4 separate regions of the Homo sapiens genome follow, and regions 2, 3 and 4 are each linked to region 1. The links come from fine-mapping of genetic effects on gene expression. A gene starts in region 1. Each other region holds a variant in brackets. All regions are shown on one strand. Distances are between the middles of the regions.

Region 1 (5,238 bases):
TCAAAAAAAAAAAAAAAAAAATTCAAGCAGTTTAAGCAGATTTGGGCAGGAGGCCATTCTGCATAAGGTAGTCTGAAAAGGTCTCTGTCATAAGGTGACATTTAAGAGACCTGAATTGAATGAAATATTGGGGACAAGTGTTTCAGGCTAAATGAACAGCAAGTACAAAGGCCCTGAGGCAGGAAGAAATATGGCAAGTTCAAGGAATAGCTATCAGGCTAGTGTGGCTAAGGCAGGTCCAGCATGGTAGAGTGACAGATGTGGGTGGGGAGGGAAATAGGAACCAGATTGAACAGGGTTTCTGTGGATTTGGTTCTGAACAAAATGGCATGATCTGATTTATGCTTACAAAGATTTCCTGGATGCTCTGTGGAAAACAGACTAGGGAGGAGGAATGGAGGAGGTGGAAGCAGGGTGACCAATTAGTAGCTGCCATATAACCCAGGGCAAGATGATGGTGGCTTGATCGAGGATGGTTACATCAGAGTTGGCTGGTGGTGAATTTTGATGTTTTGAAGGTAGCACTGACAAAGCTGGCTGAGGGCTTGCAAATGGCATTGAGAGCAAGAGAAGCACATCAAGGACACCTTTTAGATTCTGGGGAACTGAATAAACAATAGTATCACTCTCTGAGGGAGGTAAGAACGGGAGTGGTGTGTAAGGAGTAGGTTGCTGAGGGCAAGATGTATTGTGTTTGAGATGCCAGTAAAATAAGCAGTTGAATCTGGAGGTCAGGGAAGAGATCTGGGCTGGAGACAAATCAGTGATCAGCATTTGGATATTATAAATCATTCCGAGGCAGTAAGTGTAGACACAAAAGAACATCATGGACTATGGCTGGGGCCTTCAGCAACTGGGGAAGAAGTCCAGAGAGGAGACAGAAATGGCCAGTGAAGTGAGGAAGATCAGAAGGACCTGGTGTCCAGGAAGTCAAGTGAGGAAAGTTGATTCTGTATGATCACAACCAAAGTGTCAACTCATAAGCCTTATTTTCTCATCTGTGAAATGGACACCGTAACACCACCTACTTCATGGCAGATAGTACTGGCACACAGCAAACTCTCAAAATAAGGTAGCTACTGTTATTCCCTGATGGTTGGCTGCCAGAGCCCTCAACTTCCCTATCCACATTACTGACAGCACCTCCATGAGTCTTTCTCTGGGGTGAGGTGTCTCTGCTCACTCAGGGCCTGAGGCCTCTGGGTCAAATCGAGGTCAAGTGGCTTCAGTGCCTAAGTCTCTCACCCACACAGCCTTCAGCCCTTACTTGCAAATCAACAAAGGGTAAACCTGTAGAAAACATGGGTTTCGGAGCCAGAATTCTGCCTCTTGCCAGCTGTGGGCTCTTAGGAAAGTTTCTTAATCTGCCGGGGCCCCACTCTACGACATGGGGAGAACTGCTACTTCATGGGACAGTGGGTAGCCCAGTGTAGACTGTAACGCCGGCTGATCTCCTGCACGCTGGCCTGGGAGTTAGAGGCTTCTTGCTGCTCTCCTCTTCAAAGTATACAGGACTCCCGCCACACACACATCTGGAACCAAGCTGGTCTGAGAGCCCCTTATAGCCCAGGCTACCTGATGGGGAGGCACAGAAGTGGCAACCCGTCCACTTTCTTTGCCGCAGGACCCCCCGTTAAGCAGCGGGGTCCAGCCGGGCTGAGTTAGGGAGGGGGTTTCGAACGTGCCACTCCTCGCCCGGCGTCGAAGCCCGTTTCCTGGGTAACCTTTTTCTGCCTCTCTTCCTAGCCCACCAAGGCCCACTGGCCAGAACGCCGCCGCGGCCCCAAACCACTCCAGATAACCACCCGCCAGCTGTCCTCTCCGTTCTCTCCGCCGCCGCGCTGCAGGCCCAGGCTCGCACCCGAGTCCCTTCGCACCCCAGGAAGTGGCGCGGCCTGTCGAGGGCAGCGTGGAGGAGGAAGAGGAGGCGCGGCTCAACGCGACCGAAGCTCCGCCGCAAAGGCTCGGGAGGAAGAGGGCGGTGCGCGGCCAAGCGTCGGAGCTGCAGTCATACTCCGGGGACCCCACGACGGCGCCCCGCCCGCTGCCCACCCTCCCGAGGCCCCGCCCAGCGCGCCCATCCCGCCACGGGCTGCCCCGCCTTCCCGCCCTCGTCCAGAAAACCCCGCGCCCGGCCCCGCCCCCGCCTTCGCCGGGGCCCCGCCCCTCCCCTCTCCGCCGGCGCCTCGGGCGGCTTCTCGCCGCTCCCAGGTCTGGCTGGCTGGAGGAGTCTCAGCTCTCAGCCGCTCGCCCGCCCCCGCTCCGGGCCCTCCCCTAGTCGCCGCTGTGGGGCAGCGCCTGGCGGGCGGCCCGCGGGCGGGTCGCCTCCCCTCCTGTAGCCCACACCCTTCTTAAAGCGGCGGCGGGAAGATGAGGCTTCGGGAGCCGCTCCTGAGCGGCAGCGCCGCGATGCCAGGCGCGTCCCTACAGCGGGCCTGCCGCCTGCTCGTGGCCGTCTGCGCTCTGCACCTTGGCGTCACCCTCGTTTACTACCTGGCTGGCCGCGACCTGAGCCGCCTGCCCCAACTGGTCGGAGTCTCCACACCGCTGCAGGGCGGCTCGAACAGTGCCGCCGCCATCGGGCAGTCCTCCGGGGAGCTCCGGACCGGAGGGGCCCGGCCGCCGCCTCCTCTAGGCGCCTCCTCCCAGCCGCGCCCGGGTGGCGACTCCAGCCCAGTCGTGGATTCTGGCCCTGGCCCCGCTAGCAACTTGACCTCGGTCCCAGTGCCCCACACCACCGCACTGTCGCTGCCCGCCTGCCCTGAGGAGTCCCCGCTGCTTGGTAAGGACTCGGGTCGGCGCCAGTCGGAGGATTGGGACCCCCCCGGATTTCCCCGACAGGGTCCCCCAGACATTCCCTCAGGCTGGCTCTTCTACGACAGCCAGCCTCCCTCTTCTGGATCAGAGTTTTAAATCCCAGACAGAGGCTTGGGACTGGATGGGAGAGAAGGTTTGCGAGGTGGGTCCCTGGGGAGTCCTGTTGGAGGCGTGGGGCCGGGACCGCACAGGGAAGTCCCGAGGCCCCTCTAGCCCCAGAACCAGAGAAGGCCTTGGAGACTTCCCTGCTGTGGCCCGAGGCTCAGGAAGTTTTGGAGTTTGGGTCTGCTTAGGGCTTCGAGCAGCCTTGCACTGAGAACTCTGGTAGGGACCTCGAGTAATCCACTCCCTTTTGGGGACTGACGTGAGGCTCCCGGTGGGGAAGGAGACTGACCTCTCGGTTCACGTGTCTTGCCATAGAGCCACTCTCCTGAGTGGGTTTTTCTCCTGATCGTTTGGGCCAAGTGACTTCTCTCTGAACCTCATATTTCTCTTCTGGGATAATAAATGGTCACCCTTTCAAGGGGTTGTTTTGGAAGATATTGTGAACAATGGTAAATAAGGGCTTAATTAATGAGGGTAAGCCCTCAGTAAATTGTCACTGTGTGTTCATTTCTTCCTCTGTGTGGATCGTGACCGAGAGCCCTTCCCCCTAGCCTCCTCCTGGTATGGGTACCCAAAACCTAGGTGAGCAGGGATCTCTCCCAGGGGCAGAGAGCTTGTGTACTCTGGGTGTTAGAGGGCTAAAATATAACCAGTCAACACCACGTTGCCCATTTCTGGTACTTCCGGTAGCAGCCTGAGTCTCAATTATCTTGCCCAGATGATCTGAACTCTGACCTCTAGCCTGTTTCAGCATAGGCAGAGAGCTTGAGTAGGTGAGTTTGCATTCCTCATAGCAGCTGGCTGAGCCTAGTCTGGACTTCTCTTTGACCTGTAACCTACAGGCCCACAGGCCCAAGGCAACCACAGGTTGCTTCCAGGGTTACCACACAGGTGGTTTCTCATTTCTAATGCTAGGTTTTAGATAATTGTTGTAAGTGAGGGGCCCTGGCAGGCAGGATGACATCCTGCCAATAGGAGTTTTCTGTCACTTTCCCACAGAGCCCTGGCTACTACATACTCTTGCTCAATTTCGCCAGTAATTGCGTCAATGTGTTCATATCAAGTTTGGGAAGAACATCTTGGAATTGGTCAGACGTGAACTGTGGTAATAATGGGGGCTTGTTTTTTTAAGCAGATAATTAAATTCCTTTGCATTTGATGATTATTCTGGGAAGCAGACTAGTCCCATAAAATGAAATGGACTCTGCCTTGCTGCTAAGTGTCTGACTTGAGACATGCTATCGAGTTTCTCAAAATCTCTTCCTTGTGTAAAATGTGGTTGTCGATGATTACCTTACAGGGGTTTTTTTAAGACTAAATGAGATCGTGTACATTAAATACAGGCACTCAGGCTGGGCATGGTGGCTCACGCCTGTAATCCTAGCACTTTGGGAGGCTGAGGGGAGTGGATCACTTGAGGTTAGGAGTTTGAGACCAGCCTGGCCAATATGGTGAAACACCATCCCATCTCTACAAAAATACAAAAAAGTTAGCCAGGGGTGGTGGCATCGCAGCTACTCAGGAGGCCGAGGCAGGAGAATTGCTTGAACCTGGGAGGCAGAGGTTGCAGTGAGTCAAGATTGTGCCAGTACACTCCAGCCTGGGCGACGAAGCAAGACTGTCTAAAAAAAAAAAAAAAAAAAAAAATACGGGCACTCAATACACCGTATAATAATAATATAGTAATAATATTTGCTTAGGATCTTTAAAAAGTTTCATTTTTTCAGACTCCCACAGAAATGGCTCTGCACAGCAGAGTGAAGGGGGAGAGAGACTGAGTCTCCAGGCCAGAAAAAGGCCAGGTTTTTTGCTTTTGTTTTTAGTTGTTGCCTGGATATTGCACAGAAAGAAAAAATAATTAGCAAGTTAAACAAAAGTACCGCAAAGTTGATTACATTGGTATTTGAGTATCACATCTTCTCTCAGAAGCGTAAGAGACAAGGTCGTGACCATACCTCTGCTTAGTTTTGTTTTGTAATGGTGTTGCTAGTGATCGGCTTGTCACCAGTTACTGGTGTTTCTAAATGGACTATAATTGGCTACTTGAAAGGACTTCCTGAGAAAGAACATTTTGGAGGACGAGGAGAGAGTGCCTTCTCTATTTTGGCTGCTTTCATGTGACATGCAAGAGACCATGACGTTTAGGCTGCTGCTGAGGCAGCCCCAGAAATGGGGGCCGAGAGGTCTTTTCTTCATTTTAATAGGGTCTGTAGGTTTGGGTGGTTAGGTACAGTTCTCAGAATGGAGGTTCCTGGCTATGAGGCCTTGAGAAAGCTGAAAGTCTCCTTGGGAGTGTGTGGGTGGGGGGAGTCGAGC
Region 2 (5,000 bases), 47 kb after region 1:
TCACTGCAACCTCAACCTCCCTGGGATCAGTTGAGCCTCCTACCTCAGCCTCCAGAGTACTAGGGACCACCATGCCTGGCAAATTTTTGTAATTTTTTGTAGAGGCAGAGTCTCACCATGTTGCTCAGGCTGGTCTCGAGCTCCTAGACTCAAGTGATCTGCCCACCTTGGCCTCCCAAGTGTTAGGATTACAAGTGTGAGCCACCATGCCCAGCCCAGGTCATCTTTTGAGGGCATGGAGAGAAGACTTTGAGCATCCCACTTTTGAGATTGTGTACCAGTCGCAAGCCCCTATGACACACTTTTTCCCCAAAGTAGAGGGCTCTGACTATGTTGATCCCAAGAGAGATGGGAAAGAGCATTGAATGAGGATTCCAAAGTATTGGGCCTTAGTTCGTTTCCTCATGTTGGTGTTGTGAAGATTCTGGTTAGGATAACAGCATGTGTGCAGGAGGCTTTGTGAACTGCTGAGAGTGAGGCGTGGCAATGTCAGTGCTAGGTTTGTCCTTACTAACCTGGGGCCATGGGAATTGATAAGACCAGATTCCCAACTCTACCCCACAATGTGATCCCTGTGGTGACCCCTCACAGGGCTCTTTGGTCGAGCTTCCCAGAAGGGATCACCATCTGCCATTGTATGTTGAACCCCATTCATTCATTCATTCATTCAGCCAACCAGCAACTATTTGTTGAGCTCTTATTGTGTGAGAAGCAGTCTTCAAGGAACTGGGTGAATAAAAAAAACAAAACATCCTAACCTTCATTGAGCTTACATTCTTACTGAAAGAAAACAAATAAAACATACATGTAATCCTAGCACTTTGGGAGGCCAAGGCAGGCGGATCACTTGAGGTCAGGAATTTGAAACCAGCCTGGCCAACGTGAAACCCATCTCTACTGAAAATTAAAAAAAAAAAAAAAAAAAAGCCGGGCATGGTGGCACATGCCTGTAATCCCAGCTACTCGCGAGGCTAAGGCAGGAGAATCGCTTGAATCCTGGAGGCAGAGGTTGCAGTGAGCCAAGATCATACCATTATACTCCAGCCTCAGTGATGAAGCAAGACTCCATCTCAAAAATAAAAAATAAAAATAAAAATATGCATTCCCTTTGCACCAGCACACTTGGTGCCTGGGGACCTCGTGGTTGGCACCCTGAAGCAGGTGTCCCTCTTCTGTCTTGCACACCTTGCTTCTGTCCTGGTGTGTATGGCATGGCCTTCTGCCCTCCATGGTGAGCACTGTGAGGGCAGAGGTTGAGTTGGGTTTGCTGTATTTCTCAGGTGCCTAGGTTTGTGCTTGACAGGTAGATGGAAGGCACACAATGTGGTCATCAAACCTCAGTCAACCATATAAGGAAGGTAGAAGTGAAAAGTCCCATAGGTACCCAACTAATGTCACCAGTTTCCTGGATACCTTTCCTGGAGTTTATTTATAGTGTGTATAAATAAATGATGTATGTGTTTAAATGCCTTTTTCACCTTTCCTTTTAGAGCTGCCTCTTTTTAACAGTTCCATTCCATTGTATGGATGTACTATGATTTATTGAACCAGTTCCCTACTGATTATTCTGTTTTTTGCAGTCTTTTGTTATGATGAACATTCCACAGTGACAATGTTGTTCATAGTCATTCACACACATGCAAGTCCTTCTGCAGGATATATTTCTAGAGGGGAATTGCTGACTCAGAGGTTTTGGTACTCTGTGTTGATTGTAGAGTGACGGCAGAAAAGTGAGGCCCAAGAGTTTCCTAGTGACCATGTGTAGTGGACAAGTCACCAGTCCCTGTGAGTGTTTGGCCCAAAGGCTTTAAGGCATTTGATATCACTGTTTTTGTTTCTGCACCAGGCGGGAGACACTATATTCAATCGTGCTAAGCTCCTCAATGTTGGCTTTCAAGAAGCCTTGAAGGACTATGACTACACCTGCTTTGTGTTTAGTGACGTGGACCTCATTCCAATGAATGACCATAATGCGTACAGGTGTTTTTCACAGCCACGGCACATTTCCGTTGCAATGGATAAGTTTGGATTCAGGTAAGAGATACTCAGTCAGAATCTGTGGTAAACATGTCTCTCTCATGTGTTGACTAGGAAATGCAGTCCTGGCAGCTCAAGAGTGCCTCTTTAAGCTCTGGAGCAGAATGCCTCCTCTGAGAAATGGGTGCTTTGTATTAGTTGAGATGGAAAGA[A/G]GAGACCAGAAATGCCTGTAGTCTCTGCACATCCAGACAAAAACAAATTTTCCCCCCTTTTTTTTTTTTGTTTGTTTTTTGAGACAGGGTCTGGCTCTGTCACCCAGGCTGGAGTGCAGTGCCGTGATCTTGGCTCACCGCAACCTCTGCCTCCCGGGTTCATGCCATCCTGTCACCTCAGCCTCCTGAGTAGCTGGGACTACAAACACTTGCCACCATGCGCAGCTAATTTTTGTATATTTTGTAGAGATGGGGTTTTGCTGTATTGCCCAGTCTGGTCTCGAACTCCTGAGCTCAAGCAATCCATCTGCCTTGGCCTCTCGAAGTGCTGGATTATAGGCATGTGGCACCATGCCTGGCCTAAGAACAGTTTTTAGCATTTGGGAGGGGCTCTCATCTTTAAGCTCCAAATGATACTGTATTTTCTTGCTTTTTTCTTTCTCTTGCCCCACAAGTTTTGGAAAGTAAATTGGAATAGTTTTCCCCCACTGAATTATTTAGCTTGTATACCTCAGCAGATGTTCCTTGGCCTGTTTTGTTTTGTTTTTGAGACAGGGTCTTGCTCTGTCACCCAGGCTGGAGTGCAGTGACACAATCATGGCTCACTGCAGCCTTGACTGCCTGGGCTCAATCCATCCTGCAGCCTCAGCCTCCTGAGTAGTTGGGACTACAGGCATGAGCCAGCATGTCCAGCTAATTTTTTATTTTTAGTGGAGATGAGGTCTGGCTATGTTGCCCAAGCTGGGCTTGAACTCTTGGGCTCAAGTGATCCTCTCACCTCAGCCTTCCAAAGCATTGGGATTACAGGTGTGAACCACTGCTCCCGCCCTTGGCCCTATAAGAAGGAATGTGATTCTGTTTTCCAGCAGGGCACAAACTTCTGCTTAAATACAAAGCCCAAATTTTTCCACCAAAATGCCCCTAGTGAAGTGGCCAGCCCAGATGCCCGACTAGCGTATTATCCAAAGCATATTGTCATTGGTGGAAAATGGCCTTATAGTCCATTGTTTTGTCTTAAAAGTAAATATATAAATAAACTTGTATATTGTTTCCTAATTCCGTGTTTATATTAACATAAAAGTGTTTTAAATTACCTGTCAGTGGCCAGGTGCAGTGGCTCGTGCCTGTAATCGCAGCACTTTGGGAGGCCGAGGCGGGCAGATCACCTGAGGTCAGGAGTTCGAGACCAGCCTGACCAGCATGGTGAAACCCTGTCTCTACTAAAAATACAAAAATTAGCCAGGTGTGGTGGCAGGTGCCTGTAATCCCAGCTACTCGGGAAGCTGAGGCAGGAGAATTGCTTGAACCCGGGAGGCAGAGGTTGCAGTGAGTTGAGATCGCGCCATTGAACTTCAACTTGGGCAACAGAGCAAGACTCTGTCTCAGAGAAAGAAAAAAAAAAACCTATCAGTTGAATAACAAAACCCTTTCCTTCCTTGCTTTAAGTGAATCTGAAGATCCAGGAGCTGTGCTGCAGGTACCCTCTATGTTGGGTACCCCTGGTTTAGGCTGACTAGTACAGTGTGGTTGGCTCATGTAGACAGCAGACCCTTTATTTTAGATACAACTTTTTTTCTTTTTCTTTTATTTTTTTTGAGACAGAGTCTTGCTTGTCACCCAGCCTGGAGTGCAGTGGCGTGATCATGGCTCACTATAGCCTTAAACTCCCTGGCTCAAGTGATCCTCTCACCTCGGCTTTCCTAGTAGCTGGGACCACAGGTGTGGGCCAGCACCCCTGGCTGATTTAAAAAAAAAAAAATTTTTTTTTTTAGAGATGTCTCACTATGTTACCCAGGCTGGTCTTGAACTCCTGGGGGCTCAAGCAATCCTCCTGCTTTGACCTCCCAAAGTGCTGGGATGACAGGCATGAACTACTGCACCTGCTGAGATGCAACAGCTTTCTGTCAGACTCATTTTATTCTCATCATTTCTTCCTGTCCTCCCTTGCTGGGAGCATGAGAGCTGTGATGGGAATATAGGAATGTATGAAGTCCTTCTCCCAGATCAAAAATCCTAACTTCTTGTCTTAAAGGGAGGAAAATTTGAATGTAACCTTACTTTTAGACTCTTCAGAAATCCTTCTATACCCTTCCGTCCCCGCTTTCACCCTTCCTCCCTCTCCGTGTGTGTATCTTCTTCTCTTGAAACACACAGGTTTATACCCTGACCCCTCTTGATTCATCCCTTGAAGCACAGTGGTGAACAAGGAAGGGGCCCGTGATGCCCTAATTCTTTGCCACAGCACCATGTTTGTTTCACAAGGAGCCTGGCAGGTTTGGGCTTGGGGCAGATAGGGGAGAGAAAGCAGCAGAGACAGCAAAACCAAATCATGTCAGCTTGGCATGTACTTCCCTCTGAAATAGCTAAGAATCCATTTCTGTAAAAGCACTGATTATCAGAAAACCTTATTGGCCTGGCCACCTTTGGTTCAAACCCTCACATTAATAATGTGGACAGTAGTATGAGGTGTGCCAAAGGTGGATGACTCAGCACCTAAGTGATGACACCTAATTACGAATAGGTTCATTAAAGCAGACCCCCTGGGGACCTTTGCTTGAGGATCCTTACAGTCAGAATTCCTGAATATATTTGAAAATAATAATTGCATCTTTATTTTCATATGTTCTGTATGGTTTGGCTGACTTCCCCCTCAAAGTCTGAGTTAGAGTTTTCCTTAATTTATGTGATGGGTTTGGTCTTTTTGGATTCCAGAAAGAGCTGGGTGTGGTTTGGAGCTGCACTCAGAGTCACACAAAACCACAGCCTTTAGAGAACCCACAGGAAGGCTTTGGGGCACGTCCTGATTCTTGA
Region 3 (5,000 bases), 36 kb after region 1:
AAAAAAATAAAATAAATAAATAAATAAATAAAATATATACTTGGGTAAAGAGGATAAAAGAGTTAGCGATGATGCTGAATTTTTGAACTGAGGTGGCTGTTTTCAAGGAAGACTGGAGGGTGGGATGCTACGTCTAGATATGTTGCAGTTTAGGTGAATGTGAGACTTCCCTGTTTTGAAGTCAAATATTGGACCAGTAAAATCTAGCCATCAGCTTAAATTCCTATGATACAATTTACATACTCCCCAGGCTCAACACAGTAGATTTCTGAATGTCCTCTGCCAGCTACATGCTCCTGCCCACCTCAATCCGAGTAGATGGAACAACTAACCAAGCCAGCTCAGACCGGTGGCACAGCTGTGCTGGCTAACACTGGGCACCACCTAAGAGAGTGCTTCTCCAAAAGTGTGCTTCCCCAAATGGAGCGAAATACGCTTGAGGAATGTTGGGTTGAACCATGTAAAGCAGGTCTCATTCCCGCAGAGCCTTTGGTACCCCGGTGTACACTGTAACCCCAGAAGTGTTTCCTGAGCTTGCCTGACGAGACAACTTTTCCAAGAACCGTCTCAAGTGATGAGTGTTTTGTGAGTCACACTTTGGGGAAAGCGGGCCTAAGTTAGCATCTCCTCCCAGCTGCCTCCCTGCTTTCCCTGGAACACTAGGAACTGCCCGTCCTCCCTCCCTCCCTCCTCTTCCCACTTCACAACTTAGCATCAGGAATATTTTAGTTTTGGTTTTTCAAACATATATACCTCCTTTTTTCTTATCTTGTCAATATCATCTTTTTTTTTTCTTTGCTTTTCCTCATACTTTTTTTTCTCTTCATCCTTTCCTTCTCCAAGGGTTAACTTTCCACCTTAGGAGAATCTTTTCTGCTTTTTCTCCCACTTCCCCAGCTACTCTCTTATCATCTGCTCCAATCTCACCCTAATTGATCATTTTGGGAAAATATGGTCAGAGTCCAGATAACTAAGTTGAGAAATGCTTAAACTCTGCCATACCTTTCCAGTAAAGAATATTACCTAATAAATAATAAAATGGTAATGGGAAACCTGAACCCTGAAAAAAAAGAGGTGGAAGGAGAAACATTTGGAGCACATCCTGTCTACAAATTAGGAACTGCCTGTGTTATCTGTTTTATGGTTATATTCTAGAAGAAGAAAGGGATTTTGTAGCACCTGGTTTTGACCTTTCTGCACTGTTTGTTGAGCAAATAAACCTTATGGGCTGTTAGCCCTCTTTATAGCCTCTCAGCTTATCCCTGGCCCAGACACCCTGCTGTCATTTTGACTTTTCATTCCCACACACACATACACATGCACACACATGTACACACACACACATACCATTTAAGATTAGACAGAAGTAATGCTCAAAATGGAGTGGCTTCTGAGACATTTAGTCCAAGGGTTCCCAAACAGGCTTTTCAGTATCAGATTTCTTTCTGCCCCATTGAAATGCTACACAACCTTCCGCTTACAGCAGGTCACAAGGGTTTCATTCTACTTGAAGTAGGGGCCATGTCCCATTTCCACTTCCTTGGCTTCCCATTCAGTCACTGCTAGGATTTGCCTAGACCCCTGAGGCCAGACAATGTAGAAACTTCTGCTCCATGTCACAGGTGAGGAAACAGGCTCAGAGAGGGACAGGCTCCGAAAGTCACATAGACAACAGTAGGGCTGCGGCTCAAACCCCAGCGTCTGACTCCAGGTTTAGTGCCTTCTCAGGGCATCAGTGACACTCCTCATGGCCAGGGTGCCCCCAGTGTTGCTCACAGTCTGGTATCCAGGGCTGAGAGTGTGCTGTGTGCTCAGACTGCCTGGGTTCAGTCCTGGCACTGCCACTTTACAGTCAGTGACCTCAGGCAGGTTACTTAAGCTCTGCAGGCCTCAGTTTCCTCCTTGGTGGGGAGGGTTATGAGGCATCCTTCTCATGGTAAACCTTCAGTAAATACCAGCCGTTACTAGGAGGGTCCACTCCTGCCTCTCCACTCTCCATTCATCCTGCCTGTTTCCTCTGCCTGCTTCCTCTGCCTGCTTC[T/C]GTGGTGGTGAATTCTTCATGGCTCCCACCGCCTCCTGCTGCACCCCCACTCAGGGCCCGCATCAGGACCCTTCCTCCTATTGGTTTGAACTCCTTGGAGTCAGAGGGTAATGGATAGTGGAGTGAGCCAGGTGGCAGAATCTCAGAGGCCATCCCGGGCCTATAAGCCTCTTCAAAATAGGGCCACGTATCAAGCTTTACACACAGGAGTGAACTTTCACAAGTTGTTATGACTCATACTCTGTCTATAGTAAGCTGTTAACCACTCCCATTTGGCTTATGCCTCTGTAATTATTGTACTAACTTATATCTTAAAATAAGGATATTGAAGGAATGAGCCGGGAGAGGCTTTCCTGGTTGAGATATAGAAGAACAAGAGTTGCTCTTTTTCCTTAAGGTCTCTCCTCCCACCCCTGACCTTAGCTCACCAGCATGGGAGAATACTATTTGACTCCTTGTACTCTGAGACGTGGATTTCAAGATATAGCATTCCAACTTCAACGGCAGCAAGAAAAGAAGCAACAGAAGGAGAAGACATCATAGCAAACAGGGATGCATGCTGCATTTCCTAATACTCAAACCCGGAAACGAGACTTCACTCAAGGTGAAGGGAGGGCAGGTCACCACCTGGTAGCACTAGCCCTAAATTAAGGAATGCAGAATGTTTGTGGGATTGCCCATCATAAAAATTACAAAATGAGTAAGGAATGCAGGCACAGCTGGCCAGGTGGGTTTGTCACAACCATGGCAGCCCTTTGCCCCACAGCCAGTACACAGAACTGGTCTCTCCAATTCCGATTGCATATCTTCTGGCACCTCTGTTCCTCTCCCTCAGCTGCCCAGGATTTTTCTGGTTCTGACCATGTTACTTCCTCTTTTAAACCTGTTAGCATTTCACGACTGCCTACAGGCAACGGTCTAAATGGTCGGAAGGCCCAAGCTTAGCATCCGAGACCCTGACCTACCTCCAGCCACTTCCTCCTCCTCTCCACTTCACTGGACTCCCCATCTCCACCCAGACACCTCTGTTCTCCCCTCTGTGTGCCTTTGCTTATGCTGTCCCCTGTGTTCCTAGTGTGTCTCTGGCTATCTTTTAAGCTTCCCTCCCCAACCTCATTAGTTCTGTGGAGCCCCTGGAATAGAGCTGACTTCTCCTTCCCTGCTGCTCCCAGGCTGCTCAGAACTTTCTGGAAAGGGATGATTATCTGAGTTCCAGCCTCACCCCAGCCCCCGGACTCTGAGTCCCTCATGTCTGCCTCCCTTCTTTCTCTCTGACCACACAGCTGGTACATAGTCAGTACAGACGCAGTCAGTGAGTGGAGCACGGGGCTTCTCTCCAGGATTCCTGCCCCTTTGTTTATCCCTAGTCTCAGGACTCCCTACTCCTGGTCTTCTGCCTAAATCTGTGCCTCTTGGAAGTGAAGCCTCCGTTCCCAGTGGGGCCAGGTCCTGACCCTTGGGAACTTGCAGGATCCCTCCCTTGGGCCTCTCCCCGAAGCTTCCAGCTCAATGCTGACCAGAGCACAGGCTGCCTGTGACAGTCCTTGGGGTGACCTCCCTTATCAGGAAAAATGCAGAAAACCTATTAATACCTTAGCCTTGTGATTGTTAATGGTCACAAAACTCCTTTAGGGTCCTTTGGACTCAGCACCTTTATGGTCTCACTTTGAATTTTGAACCTCCCACCTCCCCCCATCCCCCAGAGTAAGGCAAATGGTCTTCTGATTGTTCCTGCAGAGGGAAGGCTCCACAGGTAAGCACACGATGGCCAGGAAGCAGAGCTGGAGCCTGCCTGAAAGGCTGTGGAGAAATGGAGGGAGGGCTGCCCTGAGGACTCTGTCTGGCTTTGAAGTTTTCTACTGTTTCCTTTTCTTCTGTGCACTGTTTTAGGATGATGGGGTGATAGTTCCAGGCTGGTTGAGGATGGATTTGGAGACAGTCCTTTGTACCCTCAGTGAGCAAGAGTATCTGTCACCCTACCTCAGCAGTTGTCTCTGTCACTGGTCCAAGCAGCTGGTTCCTACACAAGGTCAAGATCAACTGGGGAGAAGCAGACTCCTGGGTCTATCCCATTAGTGAGGACAGCTGCCTGGGCTTATGGCCTCATTGGTTTGGTTTCTATCTTGATCATCTCTACCATCCCCCCATCCCGGCCTTCCATTTTCTACCTCAGCTGTCAGTGCACAGATTGATGTGTGTGGGAACGGAGCTTGGGAGGAGTGGGGTAGGGCTGGTCCTGTCCTGTAGCCTCCCCTTCCTTCGGGCACTTGGACCCTTTGGAGCTTGCCGGGGTGGGGAATGGGAGTGGGAAGGCCAGGGAGTGTCTCTGCACCATCACTGTTTGAGTGTTGCCCCTTTGCTGTGTGCCCCACCTAGTCTATGTGTGTCTCTGTTCTCTGGGGACTCAATTTGCTGGTGAATTGCTTCCATGGACATTGTTCTGGGAAATGCCATTTTTTCTGCTCACCCATGACTCTGTGACAAGGAATGACAGCTTATTAGGAATTTGTTTTTGCATTGGAACAGTGGTCATCAGAATGGGCCCCTTTTCCCTTGCAGCTTTGACATTTGCCTCTCTTTTCCTCACCTCTCTCCCTTGCATCCACCCTTTTCTCTTTTTCTTCTTTTTTGTTTTCCTTCTAGCAGGGGCCTTTTACCTTTACTTGTTAATCCTGTTTGTAGCAAAGCAAGTGGAAGGAGGAGTTCCTCTCTGATCTGCTTCTTATTCTCCACCTACCTTCTCTTCTGTACTTTCCGCCTCCTAGAGAGAGAGAGAGAGAGAGGAATGCCGACCTAACTACCGCTGCCACTGCTGCTGCCACCACCGCTGCCACCACCACCCTGGTAATGTTCACATGTCCTCAAATCAACCCAGAGCCAGGGCCCTGCTGGTCAGGGGGAGGCTATGTAAATAATCCCATGAGTGTGCCATCCTCAGGCCCTGGGGTCTCCTAGGCAA
Region 4 (5,259 bases), 140 kb after region 1:
GCACTGGTTGTTTTGAAGGCCAAATTTCTCATACCTTTTATAATAGCATTGCCCAACAGAACTTTCTGCAGTGATAAATGTTTTATATCTGTTCTGTCCAACGTAGCAGCCACCAATCACATGTGCTTATTGAGCATGTAAATGTGGCCATTTAGACTAAGAAACCGTATTTTTGTTTTTGTCTTAAATTAATGGAGCCACACATGGCCAGTGGCTACTAAGGAGTGCCTTACTTCACTTAAATCAGAATAGGAAATGGAAGGTCAAGATCTCATAAGGACACTGAGGTTAGAAGTATGAAGTCACCTGCTAGTAAGTTAGTAAGTTCCTAACTAGTGGTCCTTCCACAAGGACTTATTCACAACAATATTATTGCCTTTCCACCAACTGAAAAAAGTTCTCAAACTCGTTTCTGTACAATATGCCTAATGAACATTTTAACTTTCTAATCAAGCATGAAATACCATTAATTATGTCCTTCTGCTTATAGTTCCACCTTTAGTTTTGGCACGCTAAAATCTAGCTGCCCTTATTTTGAACAGTGTTGAGTATAAGGAAGGAAAAATAAAGCTTCTAGAGCTTGATGAAGCGCATTTCCCCAGAAATAACCTCTCAATATGATCATAAGCCACATAAAAGAGCTTGCCAATGTTAACCTGCAGGTTCTTTGTAAGGTAAGTGAAAAACCACCACTACTTTTTTGTGGACAAATTCTAACAATTTACTAAGCAAGTCATTTGGATTGTGGACTTTCTTTTTAAGGAGTTTAAGTATCTTAATAAAAACATAATCCTTTCCTTGAAGATCTTTAAAGAAAAACTGAATAAACAATTTCCCAAATCTTTCTGAACCTTAAGAAGCTCAAAGTGAAATTTAATGGCTTGGCCATTCATTCTAAAACTGGTTCTGCTCATCAGCCCTTATTTGTATACACTATACTGGAAATAAAGTGAGACTGATTTCTCTTGAACATTTTACTCCTATAAGCAGTATTTCTAGAGCCCATAGGCCACTTTCCTGATAAACATATTAAATACATAATTTTGACACAATAAAGCTGAAACAAGAATAGATAGATGGCAGGCAACGAACCAGTTTTCAGCCCTGGCTCTGTTGGCTTGCTATATGAGCTTGAAGAAGTTTTAGGTTTCTGAACTTTAACTTACTCCCATTTGAAAAAGGCCACTGTACCTACCATCAAATTCCTTTGGGGAGTGAGGGAACACCAAATAAGATCTGTAAAAAGGGCTTGGAAAATTATATTGCTATATACTTTGTCTTTTTTTTTTTTTTTTTTTTTTTTTGAGACAAGAGTCTCGCTGTGTTGCTCAGGCTGGAGTGTAATTGGGCGATCTCAGCTCACTGCAACCTCCACCTCCCGGGTTCAAGCGACTCTCCTGCTTCAGCCCTCCTGAGTAACTGGGATTACAGGCACGCACCACCATGCCTGGCTAATTTTTGGATTTTTTTGGGTTTTTTGTGACAGAGATTCACTCTTGTTGCCCAGGCTGGAGTGCAGTGGCGTGACCTCCGTTCGCTGCAACCTCTGCCTCCAGGGTTCAAGCGATTCTCCTGCCTCAGCCTCCAGAGGAGCTGGGATTGCAGATGCCCACCACCACGCCCAGCTAATTCTGTAGTTTTGTAGAGATGGGGTTTCACCATCTTGGCCAGGCTGGTCTCGAACCCTGACCTCAGTGATCCACCCACCTCGGCCTCCCAAAGTGCTGGGATTACAGAATGAGCCACAGCACGCGGCCTGTTCTCATAATTTGTTTGATAATATCTAAGATTTTTGGAAGCAGTCATTTGCTACCACTCTGTTGGCTATTTTTTAGGCCCCTTAAATCTCATTTTAAAAAAAGCGACACCACTGGCTGGGCATGGTGGCTCACACCTGTAATCCCAGCACTCTGGGAGGCCAAGGCAGGTGGATCACCACCTGAGGTTTGCAGTTCAAGACCAGCGTGACCAACATGGTGAAACCCCATCTCTACTAAAAATACAAAATTAGCCGGGTTTGGTGGCACATGCCTGTAATCCCAGCTACTTGGGAGGCTGAGGCAGGAGAATCGCTTGAACCCGGGAGGTGGAGGTTGCTGTGAGCTGAGACCACGCCATGGCTCTCCAGCCTGGGCAATAAGAGGGAAACTCCGTCTCAAGAAAAAAAAAAAAAAAACCACAACAAAAAAACACGACACCATAAATCAGAGGCAATTTGTGGTCAGTTTGCAACATTATACCAACATGTAAACAAGCATTTAAAATGGGTGATTTCTCAAAGATCTGCTCTGACCAACAGCTAACTTTAGTTAGCTGCACAAAGACTAGATTCTTCTTACCTCTCCTTTCTCTCTGCATCCTTCCTCCTCCTCCAAAAAACATATCAAAGATGTCCATGGGGGAGCCAAAACCGCCACCTGCTCCACCCTCTTTAATTGCCTGTTCTCCTCCTTTGTCATATAATTCCCTTTTCTTTGCATCAGAGAGAACTTCGTAAGCTTGAGAAATCTGTTTAAACTGTTTGAGAAAAGAGGAGTGAATTTCATTTTTTAAAAAACAAGTGTTACCTAGCTACATTACACTTGATCTTAGCTAAAAAGGCCGAGAAGTGATCATAGTTACTATATTAGATACTCGATTTCAGGCCATAATAGAAATACTATACGTCTGGCAAAGAACTATTCAGATACGTTTAAGAGTAGATACTATTCACCTTCTCTCCTTCATTTGGGTTCTTATCAGGATGGTACTTCAAAGCCAGTTTCCTATAAGCCTTTTTCAATTCTTCCTGAGTAGCATTGGGTTTGACCCCCAAAACATCGTAGTAAGTTGTTTCTTTCACCATCTTCTACTGCCTGAAATAAGAAAATGCAACTTTAACCGGCTTTCAACTGGTAGCTTTTAATAAAAAAGAGAGCTAAGGCCGAGCAATCTCTTTGCAAAATCCGATTATAAGAACACCACCTTCCCTAAATTTCACCAAAAA[G/A]GTAACAATTCCTGCGATAATTCAGCTATAAACTCGAACAGACAAAACAAATAATCATTATCGGGAAATAATCTGAGAGCCGCCTTCTAGCAGCTGGTTCCAATTTTCCTACACCAAAGCTTCCATACTAATATAACACAACTATTATCTGGATTCTTCCCGTTTGCCCTAGAGGCGGTGACAGTTGTAACCAAAAGAAGCACTGATATGTTCAGTCTACCGGTCATTACACTATCACTGTCTTTGGCAAATCTGATAAACTCCATATACTCTCCAGAAAAAGACGTCTGGGCACACAGTGGTGGGGGGGAGTGGTTTATAGAACAGGTTACTGGCTCCACACAGCAAGCCCTCCACCGCCCACGGCTTACAGCTTCTCCAGCCGAATCCCTCTCGCCCCTCAGGCTGGCAGAGTTTACCTGCCAGGTTTCCCCTTGCACTTGGCGCTGACCGATTTCCTTCCTTTCTCCCTCCCACCCTGGACCCAAGTGGCGGTGGGGAAAGCCCAGCCCTCAACAAACAAAGGGAGGGGAAACAGAGAAAGCGAAACCAAAAGCCGCAGTCTCCGCCCGGCTCCCCCCGCAGCCCCTCGCCCCTGCCTCCCTGTGCGCGTGCGCAGGGTCGCCAACCCCACTCCCCCCCCCCACCCCGAGCGAGCACGGACGGGGAGGGGGGCCGCGGGGGCGCGCACGGAGGGGCAGCCGAAGACAGTAGCTCCTTGGAGATCCCAGGCTGGGGAAGGAGGGAGGTCTAGGAAAGGTCTCGGGCCCATTCACTGTGCGTGCCGGGGATGGGTTGCCAGGGCACCACACCAGCCCTCCAAAAGGGAAATCGTGGGCCCAGGAACTGACAGCGGTCCTACCCACGCGGCCAACTGCCTCCCGACCGCGGCTCCATCGGTTTCCCGGCGCCAATGGCGCCAGCCAGGGGACTAGGGGCAGCGCGAGGGCTCAAACTCACCGGTGCGGGCTGAGGCCGGTGTGTGAGGGAGCGGGAAGGAGCGCCGAGCTGTGCGCAGCCGGGGTAGTTACCGCTCCTCCGCCTCTCACCGAGCGTTCTGGAAAGTTCCGCCCGGCGCGCCGCAGCCGTCCTCTTTTGTAGCCGAACCCGGGCGCGTCACCCGCCGGAAGTCCCGCCCTTCTCGGCCGCTGCCACCGCCCCGCCGTTACCTGGGCAACGGCGCGGGGGCGCACGGGTCGGGAGGAGCTGCGCCGAAAGGCCTTGTGGGTGTTGGTGCTAGCGCGGCTTCCCGGCGCTCGTGGAATCTTCTGGAGCCCTTTTCTCCACTCAGCGAGCCTGAGAGTGCGGAAGTCTCCGGCTGGTGGGGCATGGCCCAGGAGCACTGCAAGTCCTAGGGTTCCCAAACCTGTGGGGTGGCCGCCTGGGCCCGCGAGGGCGGGAAGGGCTCGAGTACAGTGACCCAGCGGGAGCTGTGTGTGAACGGGAAAGCTCTTGGAACAGTCTTGCCCCCCCCCCCCCCCCTCTTACGGGCGCCTCTTCTCTTTTTGGGAACGTGGCGAGCAAAAAATGCTTGAGCCAGGTGGGTCTAGTCCCCAGACCAATAGCATAGGCCTTGGGTCTTGCTGTTTTTCACGCGTGGTCCAAGGCGGCATAATTAATCAAATTGTGAAGTTGTTAAGGCTTTTTGTGCAAGTCCAGGCCCCTAGACACATGTTATCTGCCCTGGACCTCGCTGATTCGTGCAGATTGAGCTCAGTGTGTCTGGGACTGAGCTAAACAGTGAGACGTTTGGACCGTCTTTGATGTACAGAGGGCCGTGGACTCCTCTGGTCAGGTTTTCACCCAGTTTGGCTACAGAGTAGCCGCAAGAGTGTCTGACTAAAACAATTTGTTTAATTATTTGACCTCACTTTTAAATCCTACGGGTCAGGGAACCTGGATGTACAATCTGCAACGTAAGACCTCGGACTTGAAAATGGTACCACGGGGGCTTAATGGGAATTGGGGTCCGCTTCTTTATCCAGGGACACAGCAGGTATGTCAGTATCTAGCACCAAGAAAGATGGAGTTTGCCACGCTCGGTGGCTCACGTGTGTAATCCCAGCACTTTGGGACGCCAGCGTGGGCTGATTGCGTGAGCTCAGAAGTTTGATACCAGCCCAAGCAACATGGTGAAACCCCGTCTCGATTTAAAACAAAAACAGAACTGGAGATGCAGAGTTGAAAAGCCCCAGTTAGACTTTAGTGAGAAGCCAAACAAGTCAACAGACTGCCAGAGAAACCATGAGGTAGAAGTCAGTAGGGGAGAGCCT

The links. PIP is the estimated chance that this variant, and not a neighbour inherited with it, causes the effect.
Region 2: its variant is the best candidate, but not a certain one, in a credible set for the expression of B4GALT1 in whole blood (TOPMed, PIP 0.88).
Region 3: its variant is the best candidate, but not a certain one, in a credible set for the expression of B4GALT1 in whole blood (TOPMed, PIP 0.83).
Region 4: its variant is the best candidate, but not a certain one, in a credible set for the expression of B4GALT1 in whole blood (TOPMed, PIP 0.55).

What each region holds. Positions count from the first base shown.
Region 1 is chr9:33,164,302-33,169,539 of GRCh38, reverse strand. It overlaps B4GALT1 (beta-1,4-galactosyltransferase 1), which reads left to right and starts at 2,204. Exons shown (of 6, transcript NM_001497.4): 1 at 2,204-2,782. The coding sequence starts at 2,371. B4GALT1-AS1 (B4GALT1 antisense RNA 1) reads right to left here and starts at 2,592. Exons shown (of 3, transcript NR_108110.1): 1 at 2,494-2,592. RefSeq lists enhancers at 1,621-1,700, 1,223-1,787, 1,771-1,870, 1,788-2,353, 5,154-5,203 and silencers at 2,021-2,420, 2,179-2,452.
Region 2 is chr9:33,117,453-33,122,452 of GRCh38, reverse strand. It overlaps B4GALT1 (beta-1,4-galactosyltransferase 1), which reads left to right. Exons shown (of 6, transcript NM_001497.4): 3 at 1,847-2,034. Among named protein-coding and RNA genes, the nearest start is that of MIR12117, 11 kb to the right of the region's middle. The variant A/G (reference allele first, on the strand shown) is at 2,190.
Region 3 is chr9:33,127,921-33,132,920 of GRCh38, reverse strand. The region is part of intron 2 of B4GALT1 (beta-1,4-galactosyltransferase 1); the gene reads left to right. LOC124902141 (a long non-coding RNA gene) reads left to right here and starts at 672. Exons shown (of 2, transcript XR_007061455.1): 1 at 672-2,645; 2 at 3,932-5,000. The variant T/C (reference allele first, on the strand shown) is at 2,042.
Region 4 is chr9:33,024,071-33,029,329 of GRCh38, reverse strand. DNAJA1 (DnaJ heat shock protein family (Hsp40) member A1) reads right to left here and starts at 4,057. Exons shown (of 9, transcript NM_001539.4): 1 at 3,947-4,057; 2 at 2,714-2,855; 3 at 2,340-2,517. The coding sequence starts at 2,845. It also overlaps a transcript of APTX not described here. RefSeq lists enhancers at 3,407-3,476, 3,433-4,027, 4,005-4,299, 4,622-5,217 and silencers at 3,577-3,716, 3,997-4,146. The variant G/A (reference allele first, on the strand shown) is at 2,987.